Regions from separate parts of the Homo sapiens genome. Here region 2 is linked to region 1. The links come from fine-mapping of genetic effects on gene expression. Tissue or cell type: whole blood. Region 1 holds a variant in brackets; the other region holds the start of a gene. All regions are shown on one strand. Distances are between the middles of the regions.

Evidence for each region. PIP is the estimated chance that this variant, and not a neighbour inherited with it, causes the effect.
Region 2: it holds the start of TGFBRAP1, and the variant in region 1 is fine-mapped to the expression of TGFBRAP1 in whole blood (INTERVAL, PIP above 0.99).

Annotation. Positions count from the first base shown.
Region 1 is chr2:105,272,857-105,278,544 of GRCh38, forward strand. TGFBRAP1 (transforming growth factor beta receptor associated protein 1) reads right to left here. Exons shown (of 12, transcript NM_004257.6): 7 at 4,758-4,815; 8 at 2,704-2,847; 9 at 688-834; 10 at 1-158. Among named protein-coding and RNA genes, the nearest start is that of GPR45, 34 kb to the left of the region's middle. The variant C/A (reference allele first, on the strand shown) is at 2,331.
Region 2 is chr2:105,327,026-105,332,364 of GRCh38, forward strand. It overlaps TGFBRAP1 (transforming growth factor beta receptor associated protein 1), which reads right to left and starts at 2,710. Exons shown (of 12, transcript NM_004257.6): 1 at 2,600-2,710. It overlaps C2orf49-DT (C2orf49 divergent transcript), which reads right to left. Exons shown (of 2, transcript NR_187479.1): 2 at 4,504-5,339. RefSeq lists a silencer at 2,595-3,024.

The sequences.
Region 1 (5,688 bases):
AGAAGAAAGTGGACTCGGTATAAATCAGATTTCTGGAGCAGCCGCCGCAGCTTGGCCTGCGTCTCGGTGGCCTCTGCACCCTTGCCACTGGCGGAGGCCCTCTGCAGCAGCACCTCTTCCAGGTACAGCACAGCTAAGTGGGTGTGATACTCTTCTTTCTGCAGGAAACAGGGGGAGCCAAGCAGACAGACAGTGTTTTCAAGTGGGAAAGTCAAAGCTCTCCCCTGTCAGCCAGGGCTTGGAGACCGCGGCTGCACTGACATGAGCTGGGCAGATGCTCACTTGCTGGATCGAAACCCTCTCAGAAACCATGATACTGAGATGAGTTTACCATCTATGGGGAATAGAACAAAATGTCACCTCTTATTTCAAGAAGTAAGGGCCACAGAATTTAGATAACCTACAAAAAGGTATAGCTCCCTTTATTTCCTTTAAGGATAATAACAAAGAAGGAAAAGAGAGGAAAAATAAAAGCTGAGTGGGTGTGAGACGGACGGAGAAAAAAATAAAGCTACCTATTGCTCCAGGTCTCTTTCCGCAAGCCTCAAGGCCGCCATCAGACCATCAACAAGTACGGATGGATCACCCAGGGAACAGACATTACACAGAATCACATGCCAAAAAGTGTTCTAGTTCAATTCCGTCTCTCCAGCCCACACTCTTTAGTCTAACTTCTGCAGTGCTCACCTGCAGTCTCTTGTCTATCACAAGATGTTCCAGATACTTCACAAGGGCTTTAGGGTATTTTTTAAGGCAATTGATAATGTCGTCTGGATTAAAACTGTTCTTCTGCTGTTCATCCAAAGGTCTCTTGGTGAAAACCTGAACTCCGACCTGAAAGAGGAGCGACAATACAGTGACTGTGCTTCCCAAACCCACCTTTCCTTTAACTTTATTTTGGTCATTGCACATTCAAGCTTTGGATAAAATCATCACTTAAAATATGATTAAATTATTATGTATGCACAGCTTTTTGTATGTCAATCATATCTCAATACAGTGGCTTAAAAAATATAATTATGGAGAAAAACAGCCCAGCATGAAGCACTGTCAAAGGCCAGAGGGCAAAAAATCAAGATAGAAAAGCCAGCCTATACCCTGAAGTCCTCCTCACACACCCCATGCAAATTGGAAACTGAAGAACAAAGCATTTACTGGTGACAGATTTTGACAACCTATAATAATAACATTAAGATCATCCAAGAACAGGGATAGCCAGTTGCAGAACAGTATGTGAAAAGATATCAAAAGTGCTGAAATTTCTGTACAGTAAACTCACTTCTCTGAACATGGATTATCTACTCTGGGTTATTTATGATAGATGGTTAATCTGAGATCTGAGCTTCCAGTCCCTGAGTAAGTTTCCGGGCTGCCTTCCTGTGTCCATCAAGTGGAGGCACTGGTCCAATCCTCTGGTTCAAGGAAAGGACAGTGAGGCAGGCAGGAAAGCAGCTCTCCACTGCACCTCCCCTGAGCACTTACATGTGGGAGGTTCTATCATGTGCACGCACACACGCACCTCCCCCCTCCAAGGCCAATACATTCACGTATCATGTATTATGGTATGAATTTTGGATTCTATAAGCCTGGATTTGTGTCCCAGCTCTACCAACTATAGCCTCAGTTTCCTCATCTGTAGCTAATGCCCACTGAGGGGCTGCTATGATGTTTAAGCGATGACCTTTGTCAGGGGATTGTCCACCGTGCAGTATCTGCTGTTATCATCCATAAGCATTGGGAGAAGCCTAAACCTTGCAACGGCACTGAGATCCATGTTGTAGGTGTGTGTGAGCAGGTCAGGATGTGCTCTGCAGGCGTGTGCACAGAGGCAAAGTAAAGATGGAGAAACAAGTATGCAAAGTGCAAGTGCCTGGCTCTGATTTTCCAGGGAAGCCAGCACCACGGAGGATATGAGAATATATTCCAACTCAGGTCTTAGAAAGGCAGATGCAGCACTCAGAAACTCTCCATTCAGGACCAACGTCCTGCATCAGAAAGCTCATTTTGTCTCTCCAAGGGGAGCCATGGAAGCGTATACGTTTTTCACGATGAGAACTGAAATGCTTGCTGTCTTCTTCCCAGTCACCTGTGGTCACCTGTGGGGCTTTACTAAGGATACTGTCCTGAGCCTGCTACCTTCCCTCTAGCCAACAGGTGCTTTTTCACTGCCAGCATTTCTCAGCCTCCAGGACAGGCCGAGTCTTGCTCATGGCTCCCCTCCCTCCTCCAGGCCCACAAGCTCCATGTTGGCAGTGGTGGGAGCAGGGATGAGGGCCCAGTGTGGCCCAGGTCTGGGTGCTTCCTCCTCCCAAAGATCAAGTCCTTCAGGG[C/A]AACCACCTAATCCTGCTCCAGAAAACAGCAGTGTCAGACTTCTGAGGGGTCGAGGAGCGGGGTTCACAGACACAAGTTCTTAAGAAGATGCTAAAAATGCAAGCTGGCTATGTCTTGCTTTTCTATACAAGTGACTTGCCCCAGCAAGGGGATTCTCAATGGAATGTCTCAGCAGCAAGATGCAGAACTGCCCTAGAGCTAGAATCCAGAGAGCTCAAGGGAAGGTATTAAAAGGGGAATAATAACAACAACAAAAAACAGAGGAGGAGGTTGAAATGTAGCTTTCTTTTCCCCTCCTAAAAGCAAAGCTTTTGGGGTCTGTTTTTACCACCTCCCCCAACCAAAGAGAATGCATTTTTACGAAGCACAAACCTCTTCACTTTTCTGCAGGACCCAATCAGCATAGGCCCACACTAGTTCCTCGTCTAAGCAGTAGGTAAGAAAATCCACGATGTATTCATACAGGTCTGAGCGTGTGGAGTCCTGGACATCGCCATTCACAATGTTCACCCACAACTGGAAAGGAATCAAAAAGAAAAAAAGAAAAAGAAAAGAAAAAACAATCATAAAGGCACATATCTCAGAATTAGTTGAGAAATGGCATATGTTTACTTATTTGGCTTTTTAATACCTTTTAAAGTAGTTGGAAAAACTGTAAATGCTTAAATTTTAGTTTTTTTGGAGAAATAAAGAAATGTAAAAAGACATAGTCCAAGAAATAAAAAAAAAAATTAAGCTCTAGGTTCTTTTATCTTTCTTTCTTTTTTTAACAATAACACAGTAAACAGAATATATGCAGGGAGGTGAATATATTAAAAATGTTTCTTCATGAAATAAAGAAAACGGTCACTGATAACATCTCGACACAGAGAAGATTCACCTACAACCATCAGCCAGGCTCTGTTTCCATCTTCTCCGTCACAGACATTCTTGATTTTGAAGTCCCCTTTGGACTGTGATAGGCAGATGTTGTGCTTTTACAAAAGCTTCAGTGATTCTGTCCCCTGAGTTCACACTGCCTTTTGCACAGGGGGCTCAGGATAGACTCCAGTGATAAAAGCCTTTTGCTTTTTCAGCCAGAAACTTCCCTACCATGTTAAGTGAAGCCTACTTTCAGGACCCCAGAATGAGGCAGCATCACTTGGGGGTAGAAAGGATGACGGTTGCGTGGGTTCCTTCTGCAATACCTGCATGGCGTGCCTCACCCACCCATACACAGCACCACCCCTCCAAGCCACAGCACCAGGAAGGAGCCCAGAAACAGGGGTGGCATATGAATTCTGGAATTCTGATGTCAGCATACGAACATTTTTTATGATACTAGTTTCTTCAACACAGAATTGCTGAAACCAAATAATCACACATACCTTGAAATATGCCATTTTATATAAAATTCTACCACGTATGGAGATTTATCCCATATCACTTCAAGTTTGCAAATCTATCTCTCTACAGCTCTGCTAAAGTTATTACTATACTTATATAAAGCTGTAACTGAGAACACCAGGTTTTTGAAAATGAAAATTTTATCACTGACACCCAAATCTACTCTTGGCCATTGGGTACGTGTTAATTCACCCAACTCCATTTTTTGTTGTTGTTGTTGTTCTGCTCTGCAATCAGGTTACCACAATAGTCTCACAAAGCAATCAAACACTAAATACATGTTCAGCCTTGCCAGAGTCATGAGGTTAACTTTAGCTTGGGGAACATGGCTGATGCTCTTGGCCCCTCACAAAATAAAGCAAAAAGGCACATCAGGAAACAACACGGTGCAGTACAAATGCATAACTAATAACGAAGGGGAGAAAGTCTCCCCCTGAGAGTGTGAGATGAGGCTTTTCTCAAGATCAGTAGCAAGATGTAAGATACAAAATGTGACAATGCTAATAAATCGATGCCATTTTGATTAGGGTGCAGGACCCCTGCCAGGCCAATGGAGCGCGGTTCAGATCCCAGATCTACCACGGACACATGGCCTCGGGCAAGCAACTGGCATGCATCAGCTTTGGTTTTGTCACAGGTGACACAAGGATAATAATGTACCCAGCTCATTGGCAACAGTGATCATCACTAACAGTGGAAATGGTAAATCCGACTATCATTCACTGCCTAAATTTTCTGATAAGGGTAGTGATATATTATGACTTGGAACTCTGTGAGATCATATTTTCATTTCTTAAGTTTTCAAAAACTCAGTCTTGATAATGTTCTTTAAGGAGATGGAAAGACAATGAGAAGAAAACTCTTGGCCAACATTTCTCCAGGAATTCACTTTCTAAAACAGAATCATTTTTATTCTGTATAAAAGGGTGTAGATCAGGCAAAAGTGGTCTCTATCAACTTGTGAATTTTTTTTAAGTAACACTAAGTATTACTTACATGGTGCTGATTTTTAAATCATGTGGAAACCCTTCTAGACTCACCTGAACTGCAGCAGCATCTTGGTTATTATAATGATAGAGCAGTCCAAGTGCAAAATACCTGAAACAGAACAACACGGTAAGTACAACCTCTCCCCATCAGCTCCTGGAGGCGACCTTCACACAGTGACACCCCCAGTCCAAGCTCCCCATATTCTATTCAACTCGAGTTCAGGCTCATGCCTGTAATCCCAACACTTTGGAAGGCCAAGGTGGGTGGATGGCTTGAGCCCAGGAGTTTGAGACCAGCCTGGGCAACAACATAGTGAGATCTTGTCTTTATTAAAATATTTTTAAAAATTAGCCAGGTGTGGGGCACACATCTGTAGTCCCAGATACTTGGGGTGCTGAGGTAGAAGGATCACTTGAGCCCATAAAGTTAAGACTGCAGTGAGCCCTGATTGTGCCACTGCACTCCAGCCCGGGTGACGGAGTGAGACCCTGTCTCAAAAAATATATGTGTGTGTGTGTGTGTGTGTGTGTGTGTGTGTGTGTGTGTGTGTAGTTCAACAACAACAAACAAACAACCAAAGGATTCTCATTGCTGTATATTTACTTATGGTACTAAAAATATATGCTCTATCAACTTCCAAAAAGAATCTGATTCCAATCTAAGATGAGCTGAAAAAGTAAACTATGGAAAAATCACAGCTGGAGTTGCTTTACAATTTGCTTCAAATATTAATATAATTTCATATGTCTTTGGTCTACTACTATTAACCCACATGAGGTACTAGAAGAATATGCAGAAGCTACTTTGCCTAAGCAGAGACTGAGAAGGAGGGCAGGGGCTCTGAACATGAGGAACAGCAGGAAGTGCTAGTGTCCGGGACTCGCAGACCACAGAGTCAGGGAGCGTCCTGGGGGAGAGTGCCCAGAGTTCAAGAACCTGGGTTTCAAGTCCAGCTTCATTATTTATAACCCGCGTGACCTT
Region 2 (5,339 bases), 54 kb after region 1:
AAGTCTGAGCCAAATTATTCGGCAGTATCCAAACACCTGGCTGCCACAAATGACTACTTTAATGTATTTCTAATGAGGGCTGGATTCAGACCAAGATGAAGACACTTAACCCATTAAGTAAAATTTCTTCAAGTTTTCTTAAAAGATCACAAATTTGTAATATTAGCATGAAGGAATAAGCCAAATAACTTCATTTTTTTTTTCCTAACAGAAATGTTAGCTGCATATCAGACCCAGAAAATACAGCAAGTTTTTTGGCTGGGCGCAGCGGCTCAGGTCTGTAATCCCAGCACTTTGGGAGGCCAAGACAGGAGGATTGCTTGAGGCCAGGAGTTTGAGAACAGCCTGGGCAACACAGGGAGACCCCTATCTCTACAAAAAAAATTTTTTAAATTATCTGGGTGTGGTAGTGCGAGCCTGTGGTCCCAGCTACTTGAGAGGCTGAGGTGGGAGGATCCCTTGAGTCTGGGAGATCAAGACTGCAGTGAGCCATGGTCACACCACTGCACTCCAGCCTGGGTGACAGAGCAAGACCCTGTCTCAAAAACAACAGCAAAAAAACCACCCAGAAGACAACAACAAAAAGAAAATATAGCATTTTTAAAATAGTGAGCTCTATGCTTTTAAAACTCCTCAACTGGAGCTGCCTAAATGAAGAATGGGCCCTTTACAAATCCCTGTCTCTGGAGGGTTTAAGCTGAGGTTAGATTGGTCCTGGGATTCCTGCAGTGGTGAAAACGCTCTGCCTCCAATGCTATGACAAGAGGACTGCCATGCACAATCATGAGTGTAGAAGAAAAGGCAGAGTGAATGAAGGCTAACAGTGGCACCTCACCTCTCACCCAATTCAATTGTGTAATGCAAACCTTGATGCACATAGCAAATTGGAATTCAGAACCCACAAGTCTAACTCCAGAGTAAATCATTTGTTAGGTTAACAATTACTCAAAACATAAAACTACATATTTTCAGAGCTGAGGGAGACCTGGCTCTACATCCTCATTTATATTTGTCAGCAATAATTTATTGAGCACCTACTAAATGCCAGACCCTGTGCCGGATCCTTTCCAGGCACAATTTCTTATTAGAATTCATGTGCCTTTTCTAATATTATCCCTATTTTGATGGAGGAATTTGAGACTCAGAATGTCCAGCAAATTGCCCAAAGGTCACAGGAAATGGCAGAGGCAGGATTTGAACCCACACTCCACATTCATTACCACCACAGAGCATCACTCCCATTTCATAGATGACCTGGGGCAGGCTAGTTATGGACAGGTTCCAGCAGATTCCAGCCAGTAGACTTTCTAGTACTCCAGGCAGCGTTTTGCTACACATCACAGAAGCAGCTGCAATGACTGTTGAGGCTGCTCGGCTGGCAGAAATGGAAGGAAAAAGAAAAGGAAGCAGCTGACCAAATGTTCCTTCTGACTGACCATGGAACTGCGAGCTCTCAGTTGTCTGCCAGCTTCCGGCTGACCAACAGAGAGAAGCATGTCCACCATGAGAGAGTAGCAGCCACCACACAGTCCCTCTACATTCGTTCATCCTGACTCCAACCAAGCCAACACACACAACGCAGTAGGATCTTCCCTGCACACCTTCTCAGTGCCTTAACTTGCCACCACAATCACACCCGCAGCTGCCTTCCTTCCTGATAGACAAGGTGCTTGCCCATGAGCACTTCATCAGTGATTAAACTCTGCTCAGACATGTTTTGACCACAGCTGCGCGTGCAGTCCACGTGCAGTAAGGCCTGCTGTGTGATCTGTGAGCCCCCATTTTTAGCAGCCAGGTAGGAGGCTTCCTGAGGGTCACTCAACAGTCCTTGGGTAGAAGCCACGGCAGGTGCAGACAACCGGACAGCTTCCGTGTTTAAGGATATCAACACTTAACACAGGGAGGCAGGCGGACTAACTTGCACCTGCACCTCCAGAAGGCAATGGAAAGAAAACAATTCCACAGGGATGACAGCTTCCAGCCCTTGACCTGGTGCTAAAAACAGGGGCCAGGAAGCCCAGCACAGCACTTTTCCCTACTCCCCAACACACCCCTGCCTACTCTCCAGATCAGGACAATTCAGGCCTGAGTGTGACCCGAATTTGAGCTCTCAAATCCAAAGAGCTCCCAGAAACCTCAATCACAGCGCCAAAACCATTCCATACCAGGGATGGAGGTGCAAGTCCTTCCTGGCCCTTCTCCCCGGAAAACCCAAATCAAGGACGAGGTCTCTCAGGTCTTCCCTTGCCCTAAACACACACGCACTCCTCACACACAACATACACACTTGACCCCACACCCGTGCACACTTCATCCCACACACACGTGAACACTTATTTGCTCACCCCAGCAGGCTAGCCGGCCCCCACAAGGGACAGCTACCAAGTCGCACACCCGCACACCTGCCCCCAAGTGTATAGCCACTTGCTCCCCCCACCCCGCGTTCCAGCCCCCACTACACCTGCCCCAGCGCACACGCACGGGCTCGCCCTCCACCCCGCCCCGCCGCCTACCCCCCACTCCTGCTCCCCGCCCTCCTGCCCCACGCGCCCCGCGCCCTGAGCCCCGCACCCCGCGCCCCGCCGCCCTCCTCACTCACCGGCGCCGGCGCCCGCCGTCCCGCGCCGCCCCGCGGCCTGGGGCCCCGCCGCCCCGCTCCGGCCCGCGGCTCCTGGGCTGGCCCGACCCCGCAGCCGCCGCTTCCCGTCACGTGGGGCGGCCGCCAGGCGCTGGCGGAGGGCGGGAGCGCAGCCGTCTCCGCGCCGCCCGCCGGCCCGCGGGCCCTGCCGCCTGGCTCCGAGCACAGGCCGAGACGGGCCCTGCTCCGGGCCTCGGCGTCCCCCTCCGTGCACCGGGGCCACGACACGGCCCGCCTCGCGGGGCGGCCAGCGGGCGGAAGGTGTTCATTCGGGGGGCGCTGAGGCCGCCGGCCCCGGGCGAGAGCGTGGTCCGCGCCAGCTGTGCGAGCCCGCGGGGCTGAGGTCTCTTCTCCGCCCCCGCCGCTGCGGGGAGCTTCAGGGAAGCCGGGCTTTGCCTGGCTCGCTCGCCACCCAGTTTCTGTCACCTACACAGGAGGAGGGCGCCCGGGAAATACCTGCTGCGTGAATGAATAAATGAATGAAATGCTTGGGCCCTGGGAAATGCTTGGGCCCGCGGCCGCCTGACCACGCGGGCTGGAGGATCGGACGTACCGCCGGTGCCCCACCAGGAGACGAAGGCATGGTTGGGATGCGCAGCCCTCCCACGAGGCCCATGGCGCCCCAGGGCCCTAGGGATTGACCGGGACCCCCGACTGGCAGAGTCCACCTGCTTGATACACTTATTTGAGAAGGGAGGCCTGGGACTATCTTACTCCTTTTAGGAAAACCCAACTGTAGCTGCTATTCCTTTGGTTCAGGCCGCAAGGAAGAATTGTAGGTTACCATGAATCCATGAACCCCTCTTTAGTATACAAAGTCCACTTTCATGACGGAAGAATTGGAAAGCTCCCTCCAGAGTTGTCAGTACTCAATTATTAGCATATAAAAAGTCAAATTTTCCCAGGGATTTTCAGACTTTAGAACCTGCTAGTGACCTGTGGCCTCAGCTTTCTTCCAGCCACTCTGAGTATTGTAAAACAAAGATATTATCCCAACCCTGAAGGCAGATACCAGATTGTACGCCATGGTCTTCTGTTTCAAAGGGATAAAAAAAGAAAGAAAAGAAACTGGCCAAAAAAAAAAAAAAAAAAAAAAAACCCAACAATCTTCCTGTGACTTGCCCTCTACCCCTACCCTAGTGTGACTCATGGCCACATAAATGCCCCATCCCCAGTGGTGCTTCAGCTGTGACCCAGTGGAACCAGTGTCACCGGCTCAGCCTCCAGGTAGGGGACTGGCTTCCCAGGAGTGTAAAGCTCTGACCAGCAATTGAGCTTCAAGGGCAAGCAGCAGTGAATGGACCTTCAAGTCTAAGGTGGCCAACAGCTAGTGGAGCCAGGGATTGGGAAGGTACAAGAGCAAATCCAGTCTCTTCATTTTACCCAGGCTCACAGAGACTATGTGACTTGTCATCAACTAATCACTGGCTCAGGTGGTCCTAGAATTCACCCTTGTGCTTTTGTATCTTAGTCCTCTACCAGATCACATCACAGAGAGCTGCACAAGACTAGTTACAGAGGTGATATCTACTGACTGCCAGACAGTGACTTCAGAAACTGCTAGTGACTGAGCAATGAAGTAGACGCTATTAATTTACTTAATAGCGTCAAAGAATAAATTTAATTCTTTGAGGCAAAGAAAGGTGAATGACTTCCTGTGTTAATTCACTTAGGAAAATATAAATAAAAAAATTTAAAAAGGTGACTTGTCCCAAACCCCATGCTAGTAAGAAAGAGCAACAATAAGAATCCAGAATTCAGCAACAGTAATTCTTTTTATATAAAGTTGTTTTGAATGAATAGTTTATGAACAATCTTTGTGTTCTACTTTAGATGATCCAGGAGTGAAAATGTATAACAAGAGATAATTCAGATATATTTATTTTATGAAAGGATTTATTACAGGATTCTTACAATGGCAAGCTCCATATTATTCCATCTAGAAACATCTGTTCCTTCTGAAACTTGATGAGAAGTCTGTGTCACAAATGACAGGCACCTCCATGTAAATGCCTGTACCATAAATGTGCAAATATATGCACAGGCCAAATTCCTTATGTTGTTTCTATTGGTTACATTTAAGAAGAAATATCAACCATATGGCTTTCAAAACAATTATTAACTTCATTTTTAAATATTTATTAAATATTCCTTGGGCCCATACCGAGCGTTACTTTACAGAATGTGAAAAAGATGTGCTCCGATGAGAACAATTAATGAAGACTGAGTTGCATCGATATAACTGAATATTTTCATAGTTGCTGTCTACTCTCAAAACTTAGTATTTTTATGCTTACACATACTCTGTGCTTCTCACTTTCTCGCTGGGTATACGCTTGGGAGGGCAAGGATTGTGTCTATGCTCTCTGCTGTATCTTTCTGCATGTAGAAAACACTCAACCAATTTTTAAAAATTCTTGATGCTCAATATTGAAATATTAACTAGATTACTTTTTTTTTTTTTTTTTAGACAGTCTCTTTTGCCCAGGCTGGAGTGCAGTGGTACAATCTTCTCAGCTCACTGCAACCTCTACCTCCCAGGTTCAAGCAATTCTCCTGCCTCAGCCTCCTAAGTATCTGCGACTACAGGCATGCACCACCACGCAGGGCTAATTTTTGTATTTTTAGTAGAGACAGGGTTTTACCATATTGAACAGGTTGGTCTTGAACTCCTGACCTCAAGTGATCCACCCACCTCGGC